2 separate regions of the Homo sapiens genome follow, and region 2 is linked to region 1. The links come from fine-mapping of genetic effects on gene expression. A gene starts in region 1. The other region holds a variant in brackets. All regions are shown on one strand. Distances are between the middles of the regions. Region 1 holds the start of RP9 (RP9 pre-mRNA splicing factor). Region 2 overlaps BBS9 (Bardet-Biedl syndrome 9).

Region 1 (5,532 bases):
ACTATCTCCCAGAATGAGAAGTATGGATAGGTAGCAACACCAGGACTGGTTGATCAAATGTCTCTATCACATCCCCAAGGACCCAGGGGTCTCCTTCTGTCCTCTGCCATCCTCTGGGGGTTGCAGGCAACAACATCTGGAGGCAGAAAGGGGATCTTTGACACTCCCAAGCATCATTTATTAAGAGCAAAGACAACCTTACCCTGAAAGCCACCTCCATCCGACCTCTCCTCATACCTCATTGGCTAAAATTGCACCACAGGTCCATTGCTAAAACAATCAGTGGAAACGAGAACAAAATTACTAATGACTGGCTTAAGACAAGTCAAGACTCACCTCTAGAGAGGCATGAAGAGGCCTCCACTCTCTAACCAGCTTCCTGTATGATTCCTGAACAAAATCAAAGCTGGTAGCAAGGAAGAGAAGGAGAAATGTCAACTCAGTTGCCAAATATTTGCCCCAGAATACCAATTAAGTTTGGTGTCTGACCTTCCTCCCTCAGTCTTTCGTACCTGCAAGCCTAAAGTAAAGCACGTTGCAATTTTCCCTCCGATCCTACTGGTTAGCAACTATTGATGGATAGAAATAATTTTTCTTTTTTTGAGACAGGGGCTCACTCTGTCACTCAGGCTGGAGTGCAGTGACACGATCATGGCTCACTGTAGCCTCCACCTCCTGGGTTCATGCAATCCTCCCACCTAAGCTCCACAAATACCTAGGACAACAGGCACAAGCCACCATGCCTGGCCCTAGAAGTAATTTTAACAGCTGTTTTTAGTGCATGACCAAAGGGATTCTCATGTTTCTACTGCGCTGCAGAAGACCATAGACATGCACGCCTGAGGGTCCACTTCACCATGAGAGTTCCTTGAAGACTTGTATTTTGGGTAGGAAAAAAAGAAAGATTTTGCATTGTACTCTCTAATCTAGCCATGTGATCTTTCCCTTCTCCTACTTTTTTCCTCTCCTCATCTCCCCAGTGGGGAAAGGTCACTGGTAAGATAAGAGCTTGTAAAAATACACCTTAGCAGCAAAACAATGGTGTCAAGATTACACTGTGAAGGGTGATCAATACAAGCAGGAGAAAATCTATTCTTTTTTTAGTTGCTCCATTCTGAAAGGTTTAAAACCTGTCCAGTAGCACAGACTAAGGACCAACTGCAGCTGCCCCACCAGTGGGCCAACACCAAGGCTGCTTGACTGGCCTCAAGAATGAATCTCTGGTGTCTTAGGAGGGGGCAGAAGAATAAAATGAAAAACAGAGGGGTTCATGGACAGGAGGGTACAACAGAAAGAAAGCACAAAGAGAAGTCAGAGAATATCAAATCACAAAATAATTTCATAGTCAGGTGCAGTGATTCCCACCTGTAATCCCAGTGTTTTGGGAGGCTATGGCAGGAGGATTGCTTGAGGCCAGGAGTTCAAGGCCAGCCTAAGCAGCATAGCGAGACCCCGTCTCTACAAAATAAAAAACTTTAAAAAGTTAAAAAGAATTTTGGAAAGAGCAGTATCACATAGAAAATTAATGAGACTGTATCATCGAGGAGAGCCATGTCCTAAAAGAAAAAAAAAAAAGCTATTCATCATGATGCAAGACTTCAAAATATGTTAATCATCATAAAAGTTGGGCAGTTCATGTGGACAATCGCCATGCAATTGCCCATAATCTATCCCTGCAATACACTTTTTCTATGTTGAATTTTCTTTTTAGTTTGCTTTCGTTTTTCTATTTTCTCTTTTAGCTTTTTCATTATTGTAAATTGTCAGCATTATGTTTTACAATTCACTATGCTATGTATTACATCTTAACATCATTTCTAATACTGGAGGCATCAACTATATAAAGACTTTTAGAGAGTTCAAATTTGTTTTATGCATTTTTTGCAAATATGACTCAATCAAAGCTCATTATTACAATGGTGACTGTGTAAGCATTCTACATATATGCAAAAATGTAGAAATTTCCTCGATAAATAAATAAGTGTCTTTTCTGTACATCTGCATTTGTGAAAGATGAAATTTCTCAGGATCTTGGCTCCTCGGGTGACTGGCACAGTGGTGACGTCATGGTGACCCATCCTGTCAAAAGAGTTAGGTTGTCTCTCATGGTATATCAGATGACCGCAGTTATAAAGCTGGGTGCACACTATTACCGAACATAATTATATGTTTATACATTTCACTTTTTGAACACTTTTTTTTTTTTTTTTCTGAGAGACAATCTCGCTTTTTCGCCCAGACTGGAGTGCAGGGGCACCATCTCGGCTCACTGCAACCTCTGCCTCCTGGGTTCAAGCAATTCTCCTGCCTCAGCCACCCAAGTAGCTGGGACTACTGGCGCCCGCCACCACGCCTGGCTAATTTGAACATTTTTTTATGAATACATTTCATCTGCTCATCCCTATGTGACTGTTGCTAGTATACCTGAGGTGGGTGTGGCCGGGCGGGAACCTCCAGGCTCCCAACTAGCGCCTCGCCCCGCTTCGGCTCCAGCTAGGCGGCGCTCCCCACCCACCCGCAGCAGCCCGCCTGGCGGCTGGGCCCGAGACCCGGAGCCCCTGACTTGGGGCCCGACGCGGGGAGGCGGGGATCGGGTGGCCGAGGCTGAGACTTCGGGGCCGCCGGGGTGAGTTGCGGGGCGGCGGCGGGAGGGGGCGCTGCGAAGCCCCGCGACCGCCGCGCGGAGGAAGTGCTCTCTTGGCTGCCGCCGCCGCCGCCGCCGCCGCCGGAGCCGCGCCGCGGGGGTTGCCCGAGCGGCGCTGCGGGGGCTGACATGTCGTCCCGGCCTGGGCGCGAGGACGTGGGGGCTGCGGGCGCGCGGCGGCCGCGTGAGCCGCCGGAGCAGGAGCTGCAGCGACGTCGGGAGCAGAAGCGGCGGCGACACGACGCGCAGCAGCTGCAGCAGCTCAAGCACCTGGAGTCCTTGTGAGTCCCGAGCTGCCGTCCGCGCGCGGCCAGTCTTCTGAAGCCAGGGGCCCGGGGCGCGGGACGCCGCGGTGGGCGCTAGGCCGGGTCCTCCGAGCCCCCGCGAGCAGGCAGGGGGGCTGGGCCCGGCAGGAGCCTGGTGCGGGCGACCGATGTCGGGCGCCGCGGTCAAGGACTTGAAGTCCATCCTCCTGGCGGGGCGTTCAGGGAGCCAACTGCCGCTCGGCACCAAGCAGAATCTGACTTGGGAGGCCCTGCGCTTCCCTAGCTCCAGGGGGTTCCAGGAGAGTCCAAATGACCCGGGAGAGTGTGGTGTAAAGAAGATTCAAATGTAGGGGAAGGAAATATGGTTTCCCTCTACCCTTCTAAGTTCTTAAGCTGGGCCACAAATTAAATTGTCATAAGACAGATTAACAGGAGAAAAACTTTTAATTATGTACCCGTGCACTAGAGGGCCACAAAAGTGGGAGACAAAGAAGGGCCAGGGAATAGGGGCGTGGGCCTTTTGGGGCGTGGTGGAGACCTTTTGGAAGGGTGATGGGGGAAATGTATGGTGAATAAAGGTTGCTTTGTTATCCCGATGAGGCGCTCAGGCGATAAAAGTTGCCCCCAAGCAGCTGTCTTCCTGATACAGATACATTTACTACAGAAAATTTCCTTTATAGGTGTAAATTTCTGTTTACAACAGGCGAGTCGAAAAATAATAAGAACAAAAGGAAAAAAAGCAGTCATACTTTATTTTAGGCAGTTGAGGGGTAGCTGAATAAGTTATCCTGTGTTGTTTGGTTCTGTTACTTATAGCTCAAAGTCATCAATATGCCAGGGTGGCATGTTTGGGGATGGTGCATTCTTGTCTTTTGCAGTCATTTATCAGGGTGGCGTTTCCTAAATTCTAACACAGACCTCGAGTGGAAAGTTCAGGCAGCAACTCTTTCAGTTCTTGTCCGTGATTCTATAATTAGCTGCATAAAACAACCTTTTCTAAGTGTGGCATTCACTCAGTTATTCAAGAATTCGTTTCTGTTTTAGCCACTTCTAGTTACCTGTGCTAAGTAGGTGTTAAGTATAGCCTAACGCTGCCTCCTTGAATATTTTAAGTTTAGCCTAAAAGTTTCTCTGTACTTAGTGAACTGTAACCTAAGTAGATGTGTAAACAGACTGTAACCTACTGTTATAAGTACCTGAGTCTCAGACAATCACAGCAGCTGATTTTCAGGCCGTCACAGGTGGTCAGCCTTTGAAACCCTGTTCAAAGAAGGCAAACGCCAGGCTGTATGGAATCCAGCTATTTCTCTACCTCATTTGCTTTTCTGTACATCACTTTCCTTTTCCTGTCCATAAATGTTATCCCACCAGGTGGCAGCCTGAGAATTGCTCTGGACCTATTCTGGTTATGGGGGTGCCCTCTTTGAAAACAGTTCTTTGCTCAAGTAGAGTTTAATTTGTCTACTTTTAAAAAACATAATTCATATAAGAAAAGTTCCTCAAAGAATTAAAATCCTTTTTATAATTAACCTTCTGGGAGGTTTGATGTGAGATAAATTCCTATGTTGGGACCTGGCCTGCTCTTTTTCCAGTGTGGCCCGCTCTGAACGACTTTTCCCCTTAGCAGGGCAGGGGATGCAGGATAGAGACCCTGCATTGTGGGCATCCATGTTACAGGGCAGTCCTGGCCCTTTCAAGTCACTGTGTGGCGCTCTTGGTCTCCCAGGGAAGTCAGGTGTTCAAAGATCTTCCCCTAGCGTAAGCATCAGAATGCCTGGCCCTGCCCAGCCCTCAATATATTTAGCTATAGAATGCTAGAGGATGGTTAATTCCACTTATTTGTAGCTCAGAGAGCTTTTTCACAGATGAGAGAGATTATAACCTACTTTTACAGATGAAAAAATGGAGGAACAGTGGTTAAGTCATGTGATCAAGCATACATTGACCAGTTAGTTAACCAGCAAATCTAGAGCTGAACCCAGGTGTCTGATTGACTGGTGGGATTTTTCCAGTTTCTGAGATTTAAAACTGAATGAGCCGTTGAGACATTTGCTTTGGCCAGTTCAGAATCTTGTTTGAGCTTTAAATTGTATTTATACCACAGTAATATGTAGTTTTAAAATTCAAATAGTACTAAAAGTGCTACCAAAAAATAGCAATAGGCTGCCCAACTCCTCAGTAACCACTCATATTCCCTGTGTCCCTCTTCCCCCTCCCAAACCAGGCTTCTCTGTGTAAACTTTTAGGTTTTACTTCTGGGATTTAACTGTTTGGTTTTTGTTTTTTTTTTTTGAGATGGAGTCTCGCTCTGTCACCCAGGCTGGAGTGCAGTGGTGCAATCTTGGCTCACTGCAGCCTCCACTTCCTGGGTTCAAGCGATTCTCCTGTCTCTGCCTCCCAAGTACCTGGGACTACAGGTGTGCATCACCATGCCCAGCTAATTTTTATATTTTTAGTAGAGATGGGGCTTCACCATGTTGGCCAGGATGGTCTCGATCTCTTGACATAGTGGTCTGCCCACCTCAGCCTCCCAAAGTGCTGGGATTATAGGCGTGAGCCGCTGCGCCCACCAACTGTATATTCCTAAATTGTATATTTATACTGTTTACATCAATTCAACAT
Region 2 (5,000 bases), 260 kb before region 1:
TGATGAAAAGCTAAATGCCATCTTGATTCATATCTTGAGTAACTTGTTTTTTTTCTTTCTAATCTTTAAGAATACGCTCCTCAGTGCTCTAAAATTCCACAATGCTTTGTCTGAGAGGGAGAGAGAAAGAGAGAGTGTGCGTGTACTTTCTCATTCATTGTGCTAAGCATCAAAACAATACAAAAGATCAACAAAACAAAGAGCTGGTTTTTTGAAAAGATAAAGAAAATTGAACAAACCTTTGGACTAAAAAAAAAGAAGGAAGACTCAAATAAAAGAAAAAGTAGAAATTACATCTGATACTACAGAAATACAAGGAATCATTAAACTGTTATGAACAACTATATGCCAACAAACTGGATAACTTACAAGAAATGATAAATTCCTGGATACATAAACCTACCAAGATTGAACTAGGAAGAAATAGAAAATCTGAACAGAGCAATAACGAGTAAGAAGATTGAATCAGTTATACAAAGTCTCCTACCAAAGAAAAGCCCAGGACTTGAGGGCTTCACTGCTGAATTCCATCAAACATTTAAAGAAGAACTAATAACAATTCTACTCAAACTATTCCAAAATATCAAAGAGAATGGAATACTTTCAAATTTCAATCTATGAGGCCAACATTATCCTGATAACAAAATCAGATAAGGACATAACAAAAGAAGAAAACTACAGGCCAGTATCCCTGATGAACAAAGATGCAAAAATCCTCAACAAAATACTAGCAAACCAAATTCAACACAGCACATTAAAAAGATCATTCACCATGATCAAGTGGGATTGATTCCAGGGATGCAAGGATGGTTTAACATAAGCAAATCAATAAGCATGATACATCATATTAACAGAATGAAGGGCAAAAACCATATGATCATTTCAATAGATGCAGAAAAAGCATTTGACAAATTCAACATCCTTTCATGATTTTAAAAAAACTCAATAAATTAGGTACACAAGGAATGTACCTCAATACAAACAGGCCTTTTCAATATCCACAACTGTGATACCTCATTTTCTTGAAATCTTTGTCCCCATTGGTCTTCTCTCCACTTTAGCAATCCAGTCCCCCAGTGATGAGCTTGCCATTATCAGAATCTGCAATCTCTCTGAACTCTTGTTCTCAATATCTGATCCATTCTCTGACCACTACCTTTTTTTTCCCTTTTATTTTTTAACCTAGTTCACTTGCTCTATAACTCCTACTACTTTACTTCCTCAAACTTTCAAGAATTTTGATCAGGTGAACCCATTAATTTTTCACCATGTATCAGTTTTCTCTAATCGTCACCGATTTCCTTACCATCTCAGATTTGGTAGTCCATTATGATAATCAGTCTCATTAAAAACATTTTATCTGTAATTCTGTTTTAAAATCTGAGCCCTGTTTTTAGTTGCTTAGATGCTGATAAACAAATCACTTCCAGGGAAAATCACCTAAAAAGGATGGCTGGTTTCAATTCAAAATGTAGGATCTCAAACTCTAGATGGAAATTCCACAATGCCTATTTCCCTCATGAGTTTGCTTTCTTATTTTCTCACTATTTTTTTTCAGATTTATACATTATCAAAGCTCCTTTATCTCTCCACTAACAAATCTACAAAGTCTCCCTAGGTGTACATACGATCCCTCCTGTTACAGAGAAGTTACAAAGGCCTATTCCTCAAACCCTCCCGCAAGCTTCTGCATCCCATCCCCTCTCTCTTCTTCACGGACTTATGATCCACTTCTCTTTCCTGATCATCAACCTCTCCCACTGAACTCAATCATTTAAATTAATGTTCAAACATGTTCTAATATTGCTCATTTAAAAACAAAATACACACCTCCTTCATCCTACATCTCAATTCTGAGTTACTGAAATTGGTTGCTCAATCCTTATTGAAAACACTAGATACTGAAAACTTGCAAAACTAGATACTCAAAATTTATCCTTGGATCAGGCTGCAGCTTAGACCACACTGATTTGGGCTCAGGGAGAATTATATTTAATAAATGGAGTTTTATCATTATTTTCTAAAGTTCTGTGAAATTTGTTTCTCATAATTACTTAAGCATAATCTTTATAATTATATAAACTATAGAGATATTATTAAAGGAACTGTCTTTTTGAATATTCATAAGCGAAATTTCATCTTTGACTCAGCATCAGTAAAGGGTGTGCATCTCCTCAACAAAAGGTTTAATATTTTGAACACTCTGAAAATGGAAACAAAATGATTTCTTATTATTTTAGGTGACTAGCACCTTTTTGATCATACAGTATGTATTTCTGAGTATTAATCTTATTTCTACCTTTATTAGTTTCC[T/C]GCTCTGATTTTCTCTTTCTGATTTCTTGAAATACTTATTTTCTCTTTTCATATTTTGGATACTTTTAAACTCTTCTAAATTCTTTAAGAAGCAAGTAGAACAAGGCAATGTACAAATAGAGACAAAAGATAAAAACAGAACCAGAGAGAGGCAAGACCAAGAAAAGTACAGAAACAGAAAGGGGCAGGAGAGACTGGGGAGAGAGAGCTAGCAGTGTTTGTTGTATATGGTAATAAGTCACTATGTGGATCTGGACCTTAGGAAAGCAGCGTAAGAATATACACGTATTTACATAATAGCATATTTTTCTGAAATCCCATTATACTGAATCACTCGAAATTATAGACATCCACGCAGAAATATTTTGCAATATTAATTATAAAAACATTTGATCTCACAAAAGTAGAACTTTCCCGTTATTTTTAATTTAGGACTGTGATAACAGTTTTCAGAAATGTTGCTAGCATATTTTTCCCAAATTTAAGCACTACTTTTTTTTTTGAGACAGGGTCTCACTCTGTTGCGCAGGTTGGAGTGCAGTAGTGCAATCTCAGCTCACTGCAGCCTCAACCTCCTGGGCTTAAGTGATCCTCCCACCTCAGCTTCCAGAATAGCTGGGACTACATTCATGTGCCACCACAACTGGCTAATTTTTCTTTTCTTTTTTTTTTTTTAAATAGGGACTAGGTCTCACTATGTTGCCCAGGCTGGTCTTGAACTGCTAGGCTTAAGCGATCCTCCCACCTTGGCCTCCCAAAGTGTTGGGATTAAAGGGGTAAGCTGCTACACCCAGCTACTATTCTGCTTTCTAAAAATATAATCCTACTCAGTTCCCCAGGGAATTTGGTTTGGTGTCTGAGACAATGAGCTACACCTTACTTTTCTCTTGTTTGCTTTGACTGGTCTATACTGAATCAGAAAAAGGAACTAAAATCGCCATACAGCATACATGAAGGCTTGGTTGATTACCAAGCAGGTTTTAAAAAGAGATGAATACACGGAACCCACAGAAAATACTATCCAAGAGTCAAGGACAATTCTATGTGACTTATGAATCATTTGACTGTTTACTATGGAAGAAATACTAGGTTCTTTCATTTGTAGGATTTTTCTGTAAAGCAGATTGCTGGACTACAATTAATACTAGGTACCTTTCAAAAAATGAAAAATGTCAAACACAGATTGGGTACAAATTACTTCATTCCTTTCTTAGGAATGAATACTCTGATAAAGCAGTAGGAGCACCAACATCTGCCTCAATCTCAGAAAAGTACACTCTCCTTATACCTATCTCTCTCCATCACCATAGGCATCTCCTAGGTAGGATTCTGTGTGTCACTGTAGCCAAAAACCATCATAGAATTGTAATGACTATTATTCAGGTTTCAATTTACACAGTTTATTTGGCTCCTTGTTTAAAAGGTCCTGTCCTATTCCATTATTTGATTTTGTGTACCTACACTATGCTAAGTCAGGGAATTGCCATACATTCAGACAAAGAGAATAAATCAGATATATAATTGATTTTTGGTAAAATTTAGATAGCAGTAAGGTAATCGTGGGCAACATCAGGGTTCTACTTGTTACTTTATATTAAAAGTTATAAATAAAATACATTAGGATATAAATATATTCATTTGCAAAAATTTTTGCCTTTTTTAATGGTCTCATTTGCAGATTCATTATATGGCACCATCAACTGCAGTCAAACAAATGTGTACAATTTCCCAAAGAAATGTTGGCATAACTTTTTTAGTTTAACCAAGGATAACTGTTAAACTAAGAGAAATGCACCAAAATGGTTCTACCATCCAACTGGAGATTAAAGCTAATCAAAGCAAAATGGTGCTATGTACTTACAGTTAGCAATATTGAACTATACATTTGAAATTTTAAGTGGATAGATCTCATGTTAAGTCTTCTTATCAAAATAAAATGATTTGTTTTTTAAAAAATGATGCCAATGTAAAGAATACTGCAATCATGACCAATCAGAAAAATCATGAAAATAAAGAATCTCCTCTTTCTTCTCAGAGTTGTTATTTCTGTGACCTATTATTGAGTCTTCAATAGTATCTGAGTCTATTTTACCAGTCACCAATTGACATATTCCAGAAACTATTATGATTTTAGCCATAAAAACATTGTTACAGTTTCTAAATGGGATGTCTGTTCCTCCTGCTAATACTTTTCTTTTTCAAAAACAGATGGCCTTATTGTACTCTTATTATTAGAAAAGCAATAACCAACTACAACTGCAAATGCATGGGTAGAAAGTGAAAGCTCACCAGAAAAACTAGAGTTTTTTTTTTAATTGGAATGTCCTGAGCCAGACTATTTCAAGGGGGTATGGGTGTGTGTGTGTGTGTGTGTGTGTGTGTGTGTGTGTGTGTACTTTTTTCTCTCAATACAGATTCGTTAAATACTTCCTTTCTTAATATCTTACTTTATTCCCATGAAGGTGTGTATAACTCAGTAAGCTCAGTAGCTTCAGTATACTACATATGTCAAGAGCTAGTTTTACATTGACTAGTTTCGACTATTATTCTCGCATACATAAAGCAACCAAATCAATAAAGCATATTTAAATTCAAACTTGACTATATAGTTACTACACCTTTCTGCCTACTGAAATTACACTCAGCAAAAGCTATCCACTTTCACTGTCATCTTTGCCAATGTCCAA

What was found.
Region 2: its variant is fine-mapped to the expression of RP9 in whole blood (INTERVAL, PIP above 0.99).

Annotation. Positions count from the first base shown.
Region 1 is chr7:33,106,614-33,112,145 of GRCh38, reverse strand. RP9 (RP9 pre-mRNA splicing factor) reads left to right here and starts at 2,742. Exons shown (of 6, transcript NM_203288.2): 1 at 2,742-2,925. The coding sequence starts at 2,774. RefSeq lists silencers at 2,367-2,846, 2,857-3,086.
Region 2 is chr7:33,368,285-33,373,284 of GRCh38, reverse strand. All of the region lies in intron 17 of BBS9 (Bardet-Biedl syndrome 9), which reads right to left. Among named protein-coding and RNA genes, the nearest start is that of BBS9, 240 kb to the right of the region's middle. The variant T/C (reference allele first, on the strand shown) is at 2,314.